4 separate regions of the Homo sapiens genome follow, and regions 2, 3 and 4 are each linked to region 1. The links come from fine-mapping of genetic effects on gene expression. A gene starts in region 1. Each other region holds a variant in brackets. All regions are shown on one strand. Distances are between the middles of the regions.

Region 1 (5,310 bases):
TTCAAGCAATTCTCATGCCTCAGCCTCCTGAACAGCTGGGATTACAGGCTTGCACCATCATGCCTGGCTAAATTTTTGTATTTTTGTTAGAGACGGGGTTTTACCACGTTGGCCAGGCTGGTCTCCAACTCCTGAGCTCAGGCAATCCGCCTACCTCAGCCTCCCAAAGTGCTGGGATTACAGGCGTGAGCCACTTTGCCTGGCCAAAAAATATGCTTCTAACCATAAGCCAGATTCGTCTCCAACTTTTCCTCTTTTCCCCTTCCTCCACTTTCACCTTCCTTCCTCCAACTAGCTTTCTAGTTAATCCAGCTAAGAACACAGGTGCCGGATGAAAGGTGCCTGAAAGGTGACTGCCTTGCAGATGATTTAAGCTCTGGGGTTGCCCTAAGGGAAGTGGCGGCCAGAAAGAACTATATCTCAGGAGCAGGACTGGGAGGGAAGAGCCAGGGAGCCTGTCTGGAACCCTGATACTGTGCAATGGCCAGCCTTCCACTCCTCTAAAACCTTGCTTAGCCATAGAGGGTCAGACTACGGGAGCAGGCAGGTATCTTTAAATAGTTCATTTCTGCCATATTGGGGTCCATCTGGAGGTCTTAAAGAACTTGTAACTCTATGGACCCCATTCCAGAAAAATATATAAATGTTCACAAAAAAGTTGAGATCATGTCAAAAGCTTCATTGACATCCTTGAGCTTATTCATGAAGCCAAGGCTAAGAACCCCTGATCTAATATTCTCCCTCCACCATTTTTCCTAAGGACAAAACAGATCAGCAAGGATTATTGGTTTGTTCCACCTTGTGCAGCTGCTTAGAGGGGAGTCCAAGTCCAAAGTGCAAATTCTGATACTCTTGTTCTTTCTACCATATAGTGAGTTCGTTTCCATAAATAAAAACGACTTCTCCCCTTGAAGAAGCAGACTAAGAAGACACTGCTTTTTGAGGGAAGGGAGGAGGCATGTGGCTGGGACTGGCAGTGTGGGTAGACAAAGTGCCTCTCACCCCCAGCGAGATCCACTCATTCCAACGTAGATATTTGAAATGGACCTGGGTTCCCACTCTACAGAGGAGCACTGCGGGATCACTGAGCGCAGTCAGAGTTCCAGCTTTGAAGGACCTTGTCCTGCAGTCAGGGAGGTAAGCAGTATGTGTCCACAAACGGCTGTCGTGGAAGAGAAGACATTCTTGGGCTTTAAGGGGGACTGCAGATCCTTTCCAAGTCATCAAAGGAAGCAAGGTAGTCCGCTGATTTGTCTCCCTCTGAGACATTTAGGGGGAGAGCGCCTCACTTGCCAGAAAGACCAAGGACTGCACCGCAGACACCCACCTTTCTTTTCCTCATCCGGCGACACATCCTTCCTCCTGCCAACATCCTAACTCCTTTACACTCTGGGGACCAGCTCTTCTCAAATGCTGGCGCGGGGAACAGCCTATTTACCGCAGTTGAGGCGATTTTACTGGGAAATTCTCTTAGGAGCTCCTTGGAGAGGGAAAGCCTCACGGATTCGGCGGAGGTCTTAATCTGGAGATGTCCAAATTTAGGGGAAACCCTCCCCACCATTTGTCTCCAGGCTGTATTTTGGAGTTCTCAGATTAGGACCCTCTGGACTGGGGGCAAGATTTGTATGAGGGGGTCTCCAGCAGCTTGTGGGCTGGCCGCGTGCCAGGCCTGACTCCGTGTCCCCCACCCCCGGCTGCGCCTGGGCCTCGGGGGACCGGGAACCAGCCGGCGCCGCGTCCCCGCCTAGCGGGCGGGCCGGGGACCCCTCCCCTCCGCCCGTCCCCTCCTCCCCTGCTGCCGCCTCCCGGAGGGACGGCCTGGGGAGGGGAGAGAGGAGGGACGGGCCGGCGGCGGCGGGGCTGTGGCCACGGGGGAGCGGGTGGCGGCCGCGGGGCCCCGGTGAGCCGGGCCGGGGTGCACGGGGGCCGAGGCGGCCTCCGAGCCGGGCCGGAGCTGTCGGGAGCCTGGGAAACACGGCCCAGGCGACTTTCTCCCGGGAGTTGTAGTCTTGCTCTGGGGGCGGCGCGCGGCCCGGCTTTCGGGGCGAGTTTTCTCGCGGGGCGGGCGGCGCGCGCGGAGGCTGAGGGGGAGGGGGAGCATGCCCGGCTGGAGCCCGGCCTCGGGGCGCGCCCCGGCCGCCGTCCCCACCTCCGCCTCCTCCTTCTCCTCCTCCGTCTCCTCCTCCTCCTCTTCCAGTCCCGCCGCCGCGGCAGCCAACATGGCTGCGCTCCGGAGCCCGGGAGGCGGCCGCTGCTGAGCGCCGCCCGCCGCCCCGGGCCCCCAGCCCGCCCAGGCCCCGGCCCATGGCTCCCGCCGCCTCACGGCTCCCGGCGCCCTAGGGCTGCTGCCGAGGTGCTCGCCTGCCCGCCCGCCGGCCTCGGGGGGCCCGGGAGGCGTCCGGCGGGGCGGGGCGGCGCGGCCCGCCACCATGGAGCCCCAGCGCCGGGAGCTGCTCGCCCAGTGTCAGCAGAGCCTGGCCCAGGCCATGACGGAGGTGGAAGCCGTGCTCGGGCTGCTCGAGGCCGCGGGAGCGCTCAGTCCCGGCGAGCGGCGGCAGCTGGACGAGGAGGCGGGAGGCGCCAAGGCGGAGCTGCTGCTCAAGCTGCTCTTGGCCAAGGAGCGGGACCACTTCCAGGACCTGCGGGCGGCGCTGGAGAAGACGCAGCCTCACCTGCTGCCCATTCTCTACCTGAACGGCGTCGTCGGGCCGCCGCAGCCCGCCGAAGGCGCGGGTGAGTGGCAGACCCTTGGCCCCCGCCTCTGGGACGCGCCCTCCGCTTCTCCCTCCTGCTGGCCGAGGGTACCTCGCCGGGGCCGCCGCTCCACCTGGCGATGGCCTCGGTGGACTCGCTCCTCTGGCCCAGTTGGGGAGGCGGCGGTGCGCGGATCCCGAAGTCCCGCCGCCTCCCCCAGTCCCGCCGTTCGCTGTGAACAATGCCCCCCGCTGAAGGCCTTCACTCTCAGGTGCCTCGACGACAGGGTCCCCGGGGGCCACCAGGTCCAGTAGCGGGTAGGGGGTACCTCGGAGGATGTCCATCAGTCCCTTTTCTGAGGCTCCTCACCGTCCGCTAGCTTTGGCACCCTGTGCTAGCCTTTAACCAAGGGTACCGTCCAGAAGAATGGGACTTGGGCCAGGACCCCTACTCTTAAGTTTTGGTCGCTGCCATCCTGTGCCGGGGCCACAACTGCTTTTTCATTTTCTGGCTGTCCCAGCTCCTTTTTCTCTGCTCAGAGCCCAGTCTCTCCCAGACTGGTGGCTGATTGTGCACAACGCCTGCCTGGGTTTCTTTGGAAACTGGGCCCGGAAAAGTTGGGGAAGTTGCATTGCACCATGGGAAAATCCTAGTAGTGGCTGCTGGGGCTAAGTTCTCTCCCTGAGAGCACAGAGCTGCTTAACGAGGAAGGCTGGTGACTGGTTCCCTTGAGGGTGCCTTTTGGAACCCCTGTGTCTTTGGTCTTGGGGATGACTGATTTGTAAGTGTGTGTCTGGGTGCAGGAACGGATACTGGCGGGAGTTTCTGACAAGTGGTAGGCTTGTCCTGGCCTGGCCGTGGAGTGTGGAAGCCAGCCTTTTTAGACAAGGCAGCTGGAGGAAGAAGACATGGCACTGAGGGAGGAGGAGAACTAGCATTTATTGGGCATCTACTGTTGTGGCAGGCGCTCTGCTTTATCACGTTCAGTTGTCGTTGCCACTATGTGAGCTTTCTGTTATTCTTTGCCAGAGAGAAAACTCTGGCTTGGAGTGGTTAAAATGCTCAGAAAGTATTGGGCACCAGGAATTTTGAATTATAACCTATTGTTTGATTTAACTTGTTCAGAGCCAGGAAACAAAGTGCCATCTTTCTAGGTCTTGTCCCTGTTTTAACAGTGAATCGATAGGTACAGTAAAAATAAATAAGGATATATGTATAAAAGAAAAACAAGTGAACCGAGAGGGCTGAGAAACTGCCCTTAGCAACCTGAAGGTCAAAGGCTGATGGGACCCATTTATTTGGCTGTTAAAAGCCCCACTTATTAAGGGAATGATTTTATAAGGCATTCCTGGTAACAGCTCTCTTACGTTGGCCATCTTAACCTCAATTTTTGTAGCTGCAGGAAACTGACAGAGAGACTAAATTGCTGGCCACACAGCAGGTCATTTCATTGGTGGCCCTCCCGTCTCCACTTTGAGCTTCTGACTTGCATCTCTGTCCCTCAAACCTGCATTCTTTCCCCCCAGTTGTGGTCATGTCAGAGTTACTGGGCAAACCTAGTCCTTTCCTGGGATAGTGCTTTGGGAGATGCTAGGAAGGGACTGTCAGATGTGGCCATGAGGATAAGGACAGAGGGGATCTCAACAAAGTAATTTTTTTCTTTTTAATTGTATCTATGTATCTATCTAATCTATCTCTGAATGAAGAAGTTAAGATCTGTTTCTGAAAGTCTTTCGTAAAGCACAGAACTTAGTACAGACTGGAAGTCTGCGTTGGGAAGCATGTGAATCAACGCTCGCCTTAATCTCTGAAAATTGATTGATGGATCAATTGCCATTAATTAGGTCTCACCCTTTCCGTGTCTGGTGGAGAATGTGGGGCCTCATGGGGCTGAAGTTCTAGGAGCTAGTCTTGACCTCTAAGGAAGGCAGAGATTAGGGTTTGGATTTTATCCCCTAGGGCATTGATTTCAGACCCCAGTTTTACCACAATGCAGAGTTATGTGACTTTGGAGAGGGTCATGAAATCCTTAGAAAAATACTTTTCAAGGAGAAGTTAAGTTCATTTTACTTAATGCATTAGAAAAACGCTGGTTGGGTGTGGTGGCTCATGCCTGTAATCCCAGCACTTTGGGAGGCCGAGGCGGGCAGATCTCTTAAGGCCAGGAGTTCGAGACCAGCCTGGCCAACATGGTGAAACCCCGTCTCTAATAAAAATACAAAAATTAACTGGGCGTGGTTGTGGGCGCCTGTAGTCCCAGCTACTTGGGAGGCTGAGGCAGGAGAATCACTTGAATCTGGGAAGTGGAGGTTACAGTGAGTTGACATGGTGCCCTTGGATTCCAGCCTAGGTGACAGAGCAAGACTCCTTCTCAAAAAAAAAGAAAGAAAAAAGTTAGGACAGCATTTGGTATGGCAAGATGCCACCTGAAGCCCCTGGGGAAGAGGGTGACATGGTGTGTCAGCAAACAGTGGCGTGTTGGGGGCTTTTGTTTTTTTGAGACAGGGTCTCACTGTGTCACCCAGGCTGGAGTGCAGTGGCACAATCTCGGCTCACTGCAGCCTCCGCCTCCTGGTCTCAAGCCATCCTCCTGCCTCAGCCCCGCAAGTAGCTGGG
Region 2 (5,310 bases), 130 kb after region 1:
ATGGGTCAGATTCATGCATGGCAGGACTGGGTTACTGACAGCTGCTGAGCAGTGTTCTTCCCCTGCTCCCTCTGCTGGGGCTCAGCAGGGCCTGGGGCTCCCTGATTCCTGTGTCTGTGCATTGCAGAGGTGATGAAGGCCTCCCAGCAGGCCATTGAGCGGGGTGTCAAAGATTGCCTGTTTGTCGACTATAAGCGGAGAAGCGGCCATTTCGATGTGACCACTGTGGCGTCAATAAAGGAGATCACAGAAAAGGTACCCAGGGCTTCAGTCTGAGGATTAGGCATCCAGTATTAGACCTCCTGTGCACAGGTCTAGGCCCCTGGTCCGTGATCCTCTGCCCCAGCGGCTCAGACCTTCAGTGAGCCCACCGTGTTGTGTTAGTCTGAGTTCACCTGTGCCTGGGCTTGCCCTCATGGCTGCTGTGTGTTTCTGCAAGCACATCCCTTGGTGGGGATGGAGGAGTTCCCCTGTGTATGTGCCGCCCCATCTTCCTCTCTGGCAGGTGCGGGGGGTCTCATCTCTGATGAGAGTATTGAGCTCTGCGGAAAGGCCTCTCGCAGGGCATTCCGGAACGGGGTCCCCAAATGCATGTGCCGAACAATTTCACATGCACCTTCTGGGGACAGGAACGTGCCTTCCCTCAGGGTCCCTGCCCCTAAAAGGGCTATGACTCTCGGTGCCTTCGAACATCCTAGGCAGCACGAGGGCGGGGACGTCTGTGGGGAGTGCTGGTGGGGCAAACACTCGGAGTCCAAGGACACAGCCGCTCCTTGGGCTCCATTTCTCCAGGCTGCTCAGCTCGCTCGCTGGGCTTTGCTTCCCTTCTCTGTTAGATGAAGGTGTTGGCTTCTCACTGCTGAAAGTGGGCAAACTCTACTTGGGGGAATGCCCCAGTGGAGCATCTGGGGGTCGGGAGTGCACGGGCCTGCACTCCACCTGGATGCCTGGGACGACAGACATGACAGACATATTTCAGTCTCAGCCACACAAAGGCTCACCAGACTCTGGCTCTTCATTCGCTCAGTCTGGCAAAAATAAGGCTTCAGAGGCCAGGGTGGGGCAGGGCTTTCAGAAGGTCCCTGTATCTGGGCAAAGGCGGGAAAGGAAGTTTGGAGTTGGGCTGGCCAGCACCCCTAGCCCCCTAAGCCCTGGCTCCCAGCCTTGGCCTTCCTCACAGCAAGTGGGGTTTGTTGGGAGTTTCGTGGGTATGGTTTCCCCACGGTGTACTGTGTGGCTTTACTGCCTTGTTTGTGGGTAGAGCCCTGTGAGGTGAGGTGGGTCCTGCTGGTGGCAGGACAGGGGGCTGGCTGCCCCTCACTGCCCGCCAGGGCTCACTCTGCACCCCCCACCCCAGAACCGACACTGCCTCCTGGACATTGCTCCGCACGCTATTGAGCGGCTCCACCACATGCACATCTACCCCATTGTCATCTTCATCCACTACAAGAGCGCCAAGCACATCAAGTAGGTAACTGGCCCCCTGGGCTCCGCTGGGGCCTTGTCACAGGTGGGGCTGGGAGCCCAAGTAGGGAGCAGGGTGTGTTGGGGTGGGGGGTTGAGGAATGAGAGATGGGCCTATGGGTCTTGAAATAGGCAGTACGTGTAGAAAATGACCCTTCCCTGTCGGCCCTGTCCCCTACTCAGAGGTGGTGTCAGCCAAGCGCAGCCCCTTCCTCGCGCCCCTCCGCCATTTGGGTGCTGCCACTGTTTTTTGGGCATGGCCAGCTTGGTCTGCACAGCTCCCCTCTCCTGCCCCAGCCCCCTTTCCTCGCTACGTGCTGCTTAGGAGCAGGGGAGCCAGTGGCCTGGGCACAGTCCCACTCAGCCCCGAGCTGGCTCATGACTCAGGAGCCGTTGCCTTCGCTGAGCTTCGGCTCCTGTGCTGGTTGGGCCAAGGGCTCACCAAGGCCCTGCTCCATTTTGCCTTTCTGTGCTGCTGAGCTTCTGGGACCTGCGCTAGGGGCTGCTGGTGCATCTGTTCCAAGTGTGTGTGCTGGGGGGCCCTCCTTCCCCCATCTGCCCAGAGCTCCCCCGACAGCCTACAGGCTGTTGCTGTGCTTTATGTGGGGAGCACATGGGGCCTCCCTCCACAGCCTACCCCTGCCTTGATGGGGCCCCTGTTAGCCTGGACAGAGGAAGGAAAGAGGGCCTGGAGGAGGCTCAGTGCTCAGCCTGGTGTCTGGCTGTCCCCACAGGGAGCAGAGAGACCCCATCTACCTGAGGGACAAGGTGACTCAGAGGCATTCCAAAGAGCAGTTTGAGGCGGCGCAGAAGCTTGAGCAGGAGTACAGCAGGTACTTCACAGGTAGGTGTGCGTGGGCCTGGAGTGGGGAGCAGGCAGCAGGGAAGGAAGCAGAGGCTTCCTAAGGCTGTTTTCTTAGCCGTGGAGAAGCCCGCACTTTCTACATGCTCCCAAGTGCTGTCATGAGCACGTTCCTGACAAGTCAGGTGTTCAGATTGCAGTCCCTGGCCAACGTCAGGATTCTTACAGGTTGAATGTTAAGCTCACCGATCTTGGCCTCAGGTCCTGCCTGGCTTGCCTGCTCATTTTCACACGTGCAGTGGTGGGTCTGTCTCATAGCACAGGTGCAGTTTAGTGCAGCCACAGTGTCCCCAGGCAGGGCGGGGACTGGAGCAGCCCCCAGTGTGCCAGCAGTGTGGGCAGCGGAGGCTAGGGGCCCATCTGTCCCTAGCACCCTCCAGGGCAGTCCCGTTTTGCAGCGGGATTTGGCAAACCCCCCTCCAAAAAAAAAAAA[AC/C]AAAAAACAAAACAAAAAAAAACAATGCTGTCCCCTTACCATCTCTGGTCTTCAAAGTGAAACAAACTCAGTGAAGTTTGGTTCTATTTTACCTTCTGGCCTTCAGCCTCTTTGGGAAAGTCTGTCATTTGCAGGGCATTAGCATTTGCAGTCACAGAGGATGGGACAGGGATTCTAACTGCATTGTGGAGAGTGTTATGATCTAGTCCAGGGACCTGGGCTTGGTGCCCATGTGTGTGTAGGTATGTGCAGGTGTGCATGCCTCTGTGTGTGTGTGTGTGTGGGTGTGTGTGTGAACTTTCATTTCCAATTCCTCACAGACTGGTATTTAGCCAAATACACTGACAATTCCTAGAGAGATGAAAATTTAAAACTCTAAGTCTTGCAAAAGGTAAGCTCTATTTTTTTCTTGTTAGATTCAACAGACATAAAATTACGACGTCCTGTTTCCATAGCAGTTTCTAGACACTCACTGTCAATTTCTGAGCATGCCTTGTTGCAGTAGGGGCTTGGTTTGTGTCCAGGTGCTGTTATGTGGAGCACACTGGAGTACCCCTGGCCTGGTGTCTATAGACCCCTTTGTCAAACTCCTATAGTACAGGGCTGGCCCAAGTTGGCGCCATCATCTTTCTGTGACTCTCCTCTTGGCCATGAGCTATCTGGCTCCTTAAACTTGTCGTTTCCTGCAGAATCCTGCTAATGATTAGACCACCGCCACATGTCCTCCAAACTTCCTTCTGATGCCCTGGGATTCCCCCAACCATTGCAAACCCAACCCAGGGTGTTAACTGCAGTGGGGTGGGCAGTTTACATATGAGTGATCAACTCAAGAGGGGCAATTTTCTTTCCCAGTTTCTTGCTGGTGAAGGAGAGTCAGGTGGGGATGGAGCAGAGTGCCAAGGAGCACAAAGCAGACAGCCACACAGTAGAAAGAGTGCAAGCTGTACTGCCTTGCCTCAAACCTGGGGTCTTACTCTGAGCTGAATGACGTGTCTGGGGGGCTCTTTTGCAGGGGTCATCCAGGGAGGAGCCCTGTCAAGCATTTGCACTCAGATCTTGGCAATGGTCAATCAAGAACAAAATAAAGTCCTGTGGATTCCAGCCTGCCCGCTCTAGGAGAATGCTGTGCTGTGGATGACTGCAGCTGGCCGCCTGAGGGGACACCAGACTCAGCTCTTTTCTAGCGACTGAAAGTAGAAGTCTGTCCGTCTATGAACATGCGGGGGAAGGATCCGGAACCAGGACCCAGAAGCACCTCCTTTGTAGACAGAGGGCCACGGCTGCGTGCGATCCAGGCCCAGGCCCACACACTCTGCCCGTGTCACACGTGTGCTTTAACACAAAACAGATAACACTAAAGACGGGTTCAGCACCCACCTTTCTTTAGCCAGCTGATCAGAGATGCTGCAAAGAGAACCTTTCGGATCACTCGTTTACAAGCCTTTTCTAAGTATTTGGTGGTTTATGTTTACTTGAACGGCTCCATGTTGCCGGTGCCCAGCCCCTGTCCCCTCTGTCAACCCCCTGTCGCTTTGGTGTTGGTTTCGTTCCCGTCTTCAGCAAAACGACCTTGGAACCTCAATGGGGGCTGCTTTGCTTTGGGAGGTTCTTGTTGGTGGGACCAGAGCTTTGACAAACCTCCTGCTCCTTGGTGGCACCTCTCCTGGAAGGACGTCACAACTCCAGGTGCTCAGACTGCCTGTGGCAGCAGAACCAGTGCCTTTGGCATTTTCCTCCCACAATGGGGAAGGTGACTTTGGCATTCTTACAAACTCGTCTCTCGGCCTTTCTCTCCTGCCTTCCACAGCCTCTCGTTTCTCCTCCATCTGTGCTTATTACTTGAGGACTGTGTCTGCTCCGTGAGAGCTGCGTGGGCAGGGCTGCAGTGGGGTCCAGGTGGTGTTCAGCTGTGCTGATGCCTGCCATTGGGTCCTCCTTAGGCTCTGTAAGTCGTGACAGCCTTCATCAGTGCAATGTTTGCAGGGTAATTCTTAAACTTTTTAGAGGGTGGCAGGTACATCAGTTCTTTTTGATATGAAAACATTCATGTTTCAGACATTGAATTGAGAGCTTTTAGGGGAAGCATAATGGTTATTGTCACTATCAACAGTCTAAAAAGAAAAACTGAGGTCTTTTTAATCTTGATTACAGCACTCACGGCATGCACCCTACTCAGTGTGGGTGTCTTCGTTTGGGGGCTTTTTTTTTTTTTGCACTTCTGAGGCTAGATATGTCTGGCTGAAGATTTGATGTGGTTCCTCCTTAAGCTATGCGTCCTGTTAATAATAGGTACTGTACTGGGCTCTGTGTAAGTGTCGTTGGGGTAGGACCTATATTTTAATACTGTTCCTAACATTTCATTTTACTAGCGAGAAATCTTTGATTTCATTTTATTCTTTGTAATTCTAGACACTAGATTGTAGTTTAGCCATAACTGATGTTTTTTAAAAAGGGATATATTTTCTTGCACAGTTGTTCAAAAAAGAGACAAGTTTCAGTCCTCAATGCTGTCCTTTGTTTTACAGGTACAAGTTTTCTAGCTCAGACAAA
Region 3 (5,310 bases), 25 kb before region 1:
TTTTGAATTCTGCTGAAGCTCAAACAAGCAAGACAGAGAAAGGGCTAATCAAACACCCAGCAAGATCCCACCACCTATTTCTTCAATGCAATGCAATTTAAACTGCCAACCTGCTCCTTTTCTGATCTGGGCCAGTTCACCCCTCCTTGGGCAACCTGGTGGTCCTCTGCTCCTGGGAGGTCATCATATTGATGCCGAACTTAGCACCCGATCGGCATAGCATGCTACAGCCCAGAACTCCTGGGCTCAAGTGATCTTCCTGCCCCAGCGTCCCCAGGAACTGGCACTACAGGTGCAAACCACTATGCCCAGCAAGAACATAATTTATATAGACATTCCATATGCAAATATATAAACCTGAGACAAAAACACAATACTGTTGGGGTTTTGGTTGTTTTTGTTTGTTTTTGAGACAGCGTCTCACTCTGTCACCTAGGCTGGAGTACAGTGGTGCGAATATGGCTCACTGCAGCCTTGACCTCCTGGAATCAAGCAACCCTCCTGCTTCAGCCTCCCATGTAGCTGGGGCTACAGGCACATGCCATCACACTCAGCTAATTTTTTTATTTTTTTGTAGAGATGGGGTCTCACTTTGCTGCCCAGGCTGGTTTTGAACTCCTGATCTCAGTCCTCTACCTCAGCCTCCCAAAGTGCTGGGATTACAGGTATGAGCCACCATGCCTGGCCACTATTGTTTTTTTTTGTTTAGGGGAACATTCAAAGGACAAAAAAGGAGCTCTTTAAACTTAAAAATATAATGTGAGAAATCAAAAACTCAGTAGAAGGATTGGAATATAAAATTGAGGAAATCTTACAAAAACATAGTCACAGAAAATAGGAGAGAATAGATAAGAAAATTAGAGGCCTAATACAGGAATTCCACTTCCTGAATAATAGGAATTCCATTAAAAAAATAAACAAAAATAAACAAAAAACAACAGAGAAAAAGGAATGGAGGAAATGATTAAAAAAACACCTGGGCTGGGCACAGTGGCTCACACCTGTAATTCCAGCAGTTTGGGAGGCCAAGGCGGGTGGATCACAAGGTCAGGAGTTTGAGACCAGCCTGGCCAACATAGTGAAACTTCATCTGTACTAAAAATACAAAAAATTATCCGGGTGTGGTGACAGGCACCTGTAATCCCAGCTACTCAGGAGGCTGAGGCAGGAGAATCGCTTGAACCTGGGAGGCGGAGGTTGCAGTAAGCCGAGATTGCACCACTGCACTCCAGCCTGGGCGACAGAGCAAGACTCTGTCTCAATAAAATAAAATAAAATAAAATACCCAAAGAAAATTTTCAAAAACGGAGACATATATTTCCAGTTTAAAAGGGCCCAAGATTTCTTGGCCCAATGGATGAAAAGAGACCAACATCAAGACAAATCATTATAATTCAGAACACTGAAGACAAAGAGAAGATCCTGCAAGTTTCCAAAGGGAAAGGGGAGGAGGTCAGGCATTAGAGTGCCTTGAATGTCTCAATAGATGCACTGGAAGTTAGAAGATAAGCAATGCTTTCAAACTTCCAAAGGAAAATCATCTCCAACATAATTCTTTTTTTTTTTTTATTTTTGAGACAAAGTCTCACTCTGTTGCCCAGGCTGGAGTGTAGTGGCGCGATCTCAGCTCACTGCAACCTCCATCTTCTGACTTCAAGCAATTCTCCTGCCTCAGTCTCCCATGTAGCTGGGATTATAGGTATGAGCCACCAGACCTGGCTAATTTTTTGTATTTTTAGTAGAGACAGGGTTTCACCAAGTCTCAAACTCCTGACCTTAAGTGATCCACCCACCTCGTACTCCCAAAGGGCTGGGATTACAGGTGTGAGCCATGGAACCCAGCCATTCAACTTAAAATTTTATACCCAACCAAACTATCTTTTTTTTTTTTTTTTTTTTTTTTTTTTGAGATGGAGTCTTGCTCTGTCGCCCAGGTTGGAGTGCAGTGGCGCAATCTCGGCTCACTGCAAGCTCTGCCCACCTGGTTCACGCCATTCTCCTGCCTCAGCCTCCCGAGTAGCTGGGACTACAGAACCAAACTATCAATCAAGGTTGAAGATAGAAAAAGACATTTGAGTCATTTAAGGTTCAGAAAAAAATGTTTATATACTCAGGAGGCTCCTGGATGATAAGGTAGTAAACCAAGAAAAAGACAAGGGGAAACAGGAATCTGACATGTGATAGATAAAGAGAATCCCCCAGGATGTTGGTAAAAAGAGATTGCAAGATGACGACAATGCAACAGTCCTATAGGACAACCAGCCTAGACCAGATAAGGTCAGAAATGTCTAGGAGAGATTTCTTCTTTTCTTTTTTTTGAGATGCAGTTTTGCTCTTGTCACCCATGCTGGAGTGTAATGGTGCGATCTCGGCTCACTGCAAACTCTGCCTCCCCGATTCAAGCACTTCTCCTGCCTCAGCCTCCCGAGTAGCTGGGATTACAGGCACCTGCCACCACGCCCAGATAATTTTTTGTGTTTTTAGTAGAGATGGGGTTTTACCATGCTGGCCAGGCTGGTCTCAAACTCCTGACCTCAGGCGATCCACCCATGTTGTCCTCCCAAAGTGCTGGGATTACAGGCATGAGCCACCGTGCCCAGCCATGTCTAAGAGAGATTTCTTCAAGAAAATAAAATTGGTAGAATATCATCTGAAAGTATTAAGGGAAGATTATAACAACTGAAAGAGCTTGGCATTAAACACATAGGAAACTAAGTAAATGAATTGGGGTGGGGGCGGAGATAATTATTAGCTCCAGG[G/A]AAAATAAAAAATTGTGCATAGTCCATCACATGGTAATAGTCTTTACATAGTGGTATTAATGTAAAAACTGGCTATTGCTCTAACCAAATTATTGTATGACTGTAGTGGAAAGATGGAGGCCAGGAAGGGTGCATGGGTTGTTCAAGTATGGAAGACAATAAATAGTGCCTAAAACTGAAAAATCATGACGTAGTAATAAAATAATATTATTGAGGGAAATGGAGACAAATGCCAAAAGAATGAGCTATAAAAATTGAAGATGGCCAGGAATGCTGGCTCACACCTGTAATCCCAGCACTTTGGGAGGCCGAGGCGGGCAGATCACTTGAGGTCAGGAGTTCAAGACCAGCCTGGCCAACATGGAGAAACCCCATCTCTACTAAAAATACAAAAATTAGCCAGGTATGGTGGCATACGCCTGTAGTCCCAGCTACTCGGGAGGCTGAGGCAGGAGGAGAATCTCTTGAATCCGGGAGGTGGAGGTCGCAGTGAGCCGAGATCACGTCGCTGCACTCCAGCCTGGGCAATGGAGCGACACTCTGTCTCAAAAAAAAAAAAAAAAGAAAAAAGGTGAAGATGATTATCTCTGCTAAGGGGAAGGGAGAGGGCTCTTTTTCATAAATCTTGCACCATCCCTTGACTTTTTAAACTATATAAATGAATAACTTAAATAAAAATTAAAACTTTGACCCAATTTCTATCTCCGAAAGTACAAGCTGAGGCAGGCAAACACACAAAGCAATGTACAGACAAAGCATCCGAAACCTGAAAAGGAAAGTTAAGTTGTACACAGGGAAGAACAGCATACATGTAGGTAAGAGGAACAGCAGGACTTCTGGAAATAGGCTGAAGATATTAATGATATGTCCTTAGACTCATCCAGGAAACCATCATATTTAACATGACCTGGAACTTGACCTTCCAGGATGCAGTCTGTTCTCCCAGGGATGGGAGGTGGGAGCTTCCCTAGGGAAAGTAATGTGGGATGGAAGTTTCTAAAAGCCAAAGCAGCCATCACTCTCCCCTCACTTCCTGTTCCTCTTCATCCATCCTCTGCTCCATCCTCCACCAGCCCCTCAGGACCCAAGCTTAGAGATATTGACCTGTGCTCATGTTTGCGAAGATCAAACTGACTGAGGGGATTAGGATGCGCTTAAGAGCCAGCAGACAAATCTGGCTTTACTTTTACCCCTGCATCCTCTCTCCCCAGCCATGTTTGTGGTATCTGGGCAGACAGCTCAGCCAACCCACCTGCACAGCTTCCCCAGACATTCCACACCCAGACAGTGGTGCCAGGAGTAAAGCAGCAGAGAAAGGGAAGGTATTAGGGGAGAATTAAGGTGAGGAAGTGACTCAGCCCCGCATAAGCCTGCAGGCATCCGGAGGAGTTCTCAGGAGGCAGTGGCGGCTGGGCCGAATTTCAAGCTGGCCTGTGAGTGAGGCTGAAATGTGACTCGCTCTGCCCCGCCAGGCACTGAGTGTGGTGGGGGGAGGGCTGGCTAGGGCTGGCTGTGCTCCTGTCCCCAGCTCGGACTCCCAGAACATCCCTGGTGGGCTGGTTGGGTTTGGAATCACTGGATTTTGCACGGCAATGGGTTTCTTTCTTCTGCGTTTGTTTGCCTTGCATAGGGTGGAACCAGGTAGAGAGGTGACTAGTAGAGAACATGCTGCCTTTCAGTCAGACAATTCAAATTCAGGCTCTTGACCTTGGACAAGATACTAGCCTCTCAGAGATTGTTTATTCATGGAGCAAACCCTGGAAAACAAAATTACCTTGACTGTTCGTCAAATGCGTTCACTGTGTAACCACCTCTAATATGCCAGGGTCTGGGTTCAGTTTAGAAATAATGTTTAAAAGTAAGCCATCTCACTCCATTAAGATGGCTACTATCTGGCTGGGCGCGGTGGCTCATGCCTGTAATCCCAGCACTTTGGGAAGCCAAGGCGGGAGGATCGCTTGAGCTCAGGAGTTCAAGACCAGCCTGGGCGACACAGCTAAACCCCGCCTCTACAAAAAAGACATTTAAAATTAGGCAGGCGTGGTGCCATGCACCTGTAGTCCCAGCTACTTTGGGGTGCTGAGGCAGGAGGGTTGCTTGAATCGGGAGGTAGAGGCTGTAGTGAGCCAAGATTGTGCCACTGCATTCCAGCCTGCGGGACAAAATGAGGCCCTGTCTCAAAAAAAAAAAAAAAAAAAAAAAGATGGTTACAATGAAAAATTTAAGAATATATTTAAAAATAGACTGGGCACAGTGGCTCACATCTGTAATCTCAGCACTGTGGGAGACCAAACCGGGTGGGTCATTTGAGGCCAGGAGTTGGAGACCAGCCTGGACAACATAGCCAGAACCTGTCTCTACATAAAATTAAAAAATTAGCCAGGCATGGTCACACATGCCTATAGTCCCAGCTACTGGGGAGGCTGAGATAGTAAGATCCTTGAGCCCAGGAGTTCAATCCTGCAGTAAGCTATGATCATGCCACTGTACTGCACTCCAGCCTGGGCAACAGAGCAAGACTCTGTCTCTATAAGTAAATAAATACATATTT
Region 4 (5,310 bases), 56 kb after region 1:
GTAGATGACGCCGACACCTGCCCCTCCGCCCCATGGAAGCAACCGGCCTTGAAAGGACACCGTGTGACTTTGGGGGACAGTGGCTTCTTTTGCCTTTTCCTGACTGTCCTGACCACACAGGCCTTTAGGACAACAATAACCGCAGAGACAAAGCATGACCGAGACAATGTCGTCTTTGGGCCTTTTTTCCCCCTTAATGACGTCCAAGGCTCTGGGAACATTGTAAAAACTGGGTCCTGTCCAATTTTAACCACTCCCCCCACCAGCTCCTAGGAGCCCTGCCAGCTCCCTGGGTTGGGGGTGGGAGTGATGCCCAGAGATGCACACAAAGATGTCACGCTGCCCTGGTTAGGCCCCAGAGGCCAGTCAGGACTGCAGGGACAGGGAAGAGGAACAGAACGTGTCGCTTGGCCTGTGGACTCCCCCAGCCAGGGAGGTAGGTGGGCGGAGAGAGGGAAGGGCATCTGCCAAGCTTAATTAACAGTGGAAACTTGCCACAGGGGAGGAGAGAGACGATTTGAAGAGGAGGGGCAGTTTACTGGAAGAAGGGGCACTGCTGATGCCAAGAGTAAGAAAGAGGGGAGCGTTCCAGCAGAGGCATCTGGAGCGCAGGCTGCCAGTGTCGTAAGCTGGGATGGGTTGAGCATAGAGATTTCTGGAGGTGAGAGTGGGGAAATTTATTTGTGCCTGCTTTCCTGAGTAGACGTCTTCCAAAAACAATCCACCAACATGTCAGTGGCTAGCCTTCCTTGCCCCCATAAAGAAAAAATACTATTTAAAAAATGGTAGTTGAGTTTAGAAAATAGGCATTGTGTTGGGTTCTTGTTCTTTGAAGATATCAATGGATTGCCCGAATTGCATTTGACTTTATTTCACAGATATTGAAGCAACATGTAATGTGTATGATATAGAAAGAGAGATGGGTTAAAAAAACATGTGATGCAGGCCAGACATGGTGGCTCATGCCTGTAATCCTAGCACTTTGGGAGGCTGAGGCCTGGTGGATCCCGAGGTCAGGAGTTCAAGACCAGCCTGGCCAACATAGCAAAACCCTGTCTCTACTAAAAATAGAAAAAATTAGGCAGGCATGGTGGTGGGCACCTGTAATCCCAGCTACTCAGGAGGCTGGGGCAGGAGAATCGCTTGAACCCAGGAGGTGGAGGTTGCAGTGAGCCGAGATCGCGCCATTGCACTCCAGCCCAGGCGACAGTGCAAGACTCTGTCTCAAAAAAAAAAAAAAAAAAAAAAAAGTGTGATGCTTATTGTTTTTGTTGAGACAAAAATGCAGAGATATTGAATGTACAGCAAAACTAATAGTGTGGGTTGGACTTCAGATATGGGAGGTGGAGCATGGGTTATTCATTATTAGCAGGATCATAGAATTTTAAGGCTGAACTGGGTTTTCTGGTTTCATCTCCCTTCAGATGCACAGACTTCCCCATGACATCCATGCCACTGAGTGCTGGGCCTCCCTCACTGTCTCACCCCCTCACCCTCAGGCTTTTCATACCTGGCAGTGCTGACCGTGGCCATCCAGACCTGTTTAGAGATGCAGCTTTCTCCAGCATCCACCCGCTGCTCCTGGTTTGGCTGCTGGAGGCCATCAAGAACAAATCTAATCCCTTCTGACAGTCGTATTGAGAGACAAGACACCTACCCATTCCCCAGTCATTCTCTTCAGCCCATGCTCAACGCCTTCAGATTCTTCAGAGTCTCTGAAAATGTGATAATGAGGCTACTGGTCATTGCCGGTCACGCCTGTCCTAGTGCTTGCCATTACCAAAGTTGCTTTTTGCTTGCTTTCTCTTTTTTCTCTCCCCCTTCATCTCTTTTTCTGATGGACACGCCTGCTAGCTCGCCTGCCTGCAGTCTATCTCTCTGCCCTCCTGCATGGTCCTCACCTCCCCAGCAAAGTCTCCCTGCTTTCCCCTCAAGGTCTCTCCTGTCCCCCAGGGGCCTCCCACCTACAGTGCATCTCCCTCCCCTGCCCCGCTCCCCCATTTACCCCCATTTCTTCATTTCTCCTCTTTCCCGTCCAAAGATGCGTGTAGGGTGGCTAGTCAAGAATTGCAGTGGAAGAGTGTTTTTTGTTTTTTTTTTCTGAGACAGGATCTCACTTTGTTGCCCAGGCTGAAGTGCAGTGGCATGATCATGGCTCACTGCAGCCTTGACTTCCCTGGGCTTAGGTGATCCTCCCACCTCAGACTCCCAGGTAGCTGGGATTACAGGTGCGTGCCACCACGCCCAGCTAATTTTTTGTATTTTTTATAGAGATGGAGTTTCACTATGTTGCCCAGGCTGGTCTCAAACTCCTGAGCTGAAGCAATCTGCCCACCTTGGCCTCCCAAAGCACTGGGATTATAGGTGTGAGCCACCGTGCCCTGCTGGGAGCTCCTTAAATGTGGTCC[T/C]CCACATTTCTTGTTGTGGAGCCCAGGATCTCATTAGTTCTTGGCAGCTTTCTGATGCCAGAGCCCTAAGGCTTGTTCAAAGCCCTTATTGCAAAAATTCCATCTCCAGCTCACCCACTTGGCCTGGTACATACCGCTCTTCATTGTATAGTTCTTTTGGCTCCAAGAACAAAACACTGGATTTGTCCTTGTTTTATCTGACCTGCCATCTCTGTGTGTTATGCTTTGTCCACTCCCAATTTAGTCTCTGAGTCAGTTTGCCCTCCCTTTTAATTTTATGTCATCCATAGTCTTGATGAGCAAAGTGTACCTTCTGTTTCCATTAATCATGGAAATTGCTGAAATGGGATGGGGGATGGGGGATGGGGGATGGGGTAGGGACCTTATAAGCCATCTGGTTGAACTCCTTCATTTTGCAGACCAGGAAACAGAGTTCCAGAAAACAAAAGCTACTTGCTCAGCACGACCCAGCTATGGGCACCTACATAGAGCTAGGTTCAGAAACTGGGCTTCCCGGTGCTGGGAGGGTAACATCTGGTTTTGAAGATATTTGAATTCAAACCAAACCACAGTGGTTGTGTGTCCACAACCAGGAATTAACATTAAGTGTGGACAAAAAAAAGTGCTACCCTCTGGCTTTGGTGATGGTACAATTGCTCATCATTTTAGGAGTAACTTTTAATAAGGGGGCAGATACTAAGTAAATTATTAAGAACTGAGCTTGAATACAGTTAGAACCTAAAGAGCAGAACAGTCAGAGAAAGAACAGATAGTTCAGTTGTTCTTTAATTTCTGCTCTGTTACCCTCTGCATGGAAGCCAGAATCATATTGCTAGAGATGTGGAGGAAACCCCCACACCCCATGTTTACCTGGGGCATGTCACTCCCTTGCTAAGCCTTTCCCCAGATGTCCCAACAAGAAGCCAGCTGACTGACTCCAAGTTCCCCTCTGCCCGCCTGCCCAGAGCAGGAGGGGCCGATAAAGTGAGGTGGGAGGCCTGGCAGAAACACCGAAGTCCAGATCTGCTGAGCGCGCCTCCTCTGCTTGGCCCGTGGATGTGGATTTCTAGTGCCTGGTGCATGTAGCTCTCATGGCCTGGCATTGACTGATGATCAGCTGGCTTGGGGTGAAGACGAGTGACCCCTTGGGGTTAGTAACATGGTCTCCCCTCTTTCCCCAGGTTCTACCTACAGCGTCCTGTCCACCATGCCCTCAGACTCAGAAAGCAGCAGCTCCCTCAGCAGTGTGGGTGAGTACCACTGTCTGGGGAGGACACCGGGTGGGCCAGGGGTCTGGGTGAAAGCCAAGGCAGCTGGGGTTCATGGGAGAGGAAGCTGGTTCTCCCTTGTCAGATTACTCACAGGATCATCCTTCCGTTGATTTCATTTACATTTTCTCCCATCATCAGAAACCCAGTTCTGATGTTAGAAGGAGGTGGGGAGGTGAGTGCTGGGAAGCACATGTTTTGCCATTGTTTACTTTGTCAGGGCACAGGGCTTCTAGGGGAGCCTGTTGACCCACCATCCCCACCCCAACCCCAAAGGCCTTGTAGTAACTCAGTGACCACTGCCCAGGAGACTCACCCCTTTTGGAGTTTCCTTGGGGATAGGCATTGCCAGTCCATGCTGAATTGGGTGTGTTTCTCTGAATATGGGTTTCAGAAAGCCCATAAAATGAGGCCAGCCCTTCTCTGAAGTCCAGCAGGAAGGCCGCAGTGGTTTCTCAGGCTTCCCACACCTCTGTGACCCATTCCCTCTGTTTAGCACCTCTAGTGGGGTTTCTCATGGCCTGATCTGACCATGATGGATGCAGACACCTTCAGTGGTGAGTCCCGGCCATCTTTTGAGCCCGAAGGACTCACAGAGGTCATCTACTCCAATTATTTTCTTTTCCCTCTGCAGAGAGATGGGGAAATTGACATTCTGGGAGGGGGAGTCACATGCCTGAGATTCTAGAACTAGTCAGGACAGCTCTTTCATATGTCAGCTCACATCTTGAACACCTCCAGTGTGCCAGAGGTGGGCTTGGGCCGTAGTGGCGAATTAGGCAGATGTGGGCCCCACACTCCTGGATGTTAGGGTCTTTTGGTGGGAAACAGTTAAATAAGTAGCTGCAGTAAGGGAAGGTAGTGTGATAAGAGGGAAGACAGTGACCAGCCGGCGAGTTCCATCTTAGTTTTCTAGGGCTGCTATAACAAAGTGCCGCAGACCAGGTGGCTTACACAGCAGAAATTGATTGTCTCACAGTTCTGGAGGACAGAAGCCCAAGATCAAAGTGTCAGTGAGGCCACGCAGGCTGAAGGCGCTAGGGAGAGATCTGTCCCGGGCCTCTCTCCTCGCTTCTGGTGGCTTGCTGGTAATCCTTGGTGCTCCTTGGTTTGCCGACATCACACTGATCTCTGCCTTTGTGTTCACATGATGTTCTCCGTCCATGTGTGTCTGTCTCCAAATTTCCCCTTTTAATAAGGACACTGGTCAGATTGGCCTAGGAGCCTGCCTTACGGCAGCAAGACCTCATCTTAAATTGATCATCTGTAAAGACTATTTCACCATCAGCAATAACTGCTGTGGGCTGAGCAGTGTCCCTCTCGGGACTCCCCTTTTAGAATGCAAATGCGCCTCGGAAAGATAACGCTTTGACCTTTCCAAATAAGGTTCACATTCACATTTACTGGATTGGGACTTTAGCATCTTTTGGGGGGCCACAACTCCACCCATAAAAACACAGTTCCTCCCATAACCCTCATCCTGTTTAGGGCTCAGGGCAGGCCCTTCTGGGACTGCAATTCAAAGCTCCCAACGGTATCCTATTACTTTGTTCTGCCTGCTTTTGGTGCCCGGAGACATATCAATGGAATGATGGGATTGTTGGAATTTGGAATGTGGGACTCACCCTTCAGGA

Alleles and levels. Alleles are on the strand shown, and positions count from the first base shown. SD is a standard deviation of normalised expression in the study named. Not every link is listed here.
With allele C in place of AC in region 2, the expression in monocytes of the gene that starts at base 2,195 in region 1 is lower (large effect, 0.84 SD a copy in Schmiedel 2018).

The links. PIP is the estimated chance that this variant, and not a neighbour inherited with it, causes the effect.
Region 2: its variant is the best candidate, but not a certain one, in a credible set for the expression of DLG5 in monocytes (Schmiedel 2018, PIP 0.80).
Region 3: its variant is the best candidate, but not a certain one, in a credible set for the expression of DLG5 in whole blood (TOPMed, PIP 0.53).
Region 4: its variant is the best candidate, but not a certain one, in a credible set for the expression of DLG5 in whole blood (TOPMed, PIP 0.79).

Annotation. Positions count from the first base shown.
Region 1 is chr10:77,923,640-77,928,949 of GRCh38, reverse strand. DLG5 (discs large MAGUK scaffold protein 5) reads left to right here and starts at 2,195. Exons shown (of 32, transcript NM_004747.4): 1 at 2,195-2,733. The coding sequence starts at 2,430. DLG5-AS1 (DLG5 antisense RNA 1) reads right to left here and starts at 2,138. Exons shown (of 1, transcript NR_024585.1): 1 at 1-2,138. RefSeq lists a silencer at 326-502.
Region 2 is chr10:77,791,006-77,796,315 of GRCh38, reverse strand. DLG5 (discs large MAGUK scaffold protein 5) reads left to right here. Exons shown (of 32, transcript NM_004747.4): 29 at 128-255; 30 at 1,358-1,467; 31 at 2,199-2,308; 32 at 3,773-5,310. The coding sequence ends at 3,876. Among named protein-coding and RNA genes, the nearest start is that of DLG5, 130 kb to the left of the region's middle. The variant AC/C (reference allele first, on the strand shown) is at 2,760.
Region 3 is chr10:77,948,186-77,953,495 of GRCh38, reverse strand. It overlaps the pseudogene H2AZP5. Among named protein-coding and RNA genes, the nearest start is that of DLG5-AS1, 24 kb to the right of the region's middle. RefSeq lists enhancers at 3,666-4,203, 4,204-4,741, 4,742-5,279 and a silencer at 4,031-4,325. The variant G/A (reference allele first, on the strand shown) is at 2,760.
Region 4 is chr10:77,867,477-77,872,786 of GRCh38, reverse strand. DLG5 (discs large MAGUK scaffold protein 5) reads left to right here. Exons shown (of 32, transcript NM_004747.4): 2 at 3,590-3,658. Among named protein-coding and RNA genes, the nearest start is that of DLG5, 57 kb to the left of the region's middle. RefSeq lists an enhancer at 4,333-5,310. The variant T/C (reference allele first, on the strand shown) is at 2,409.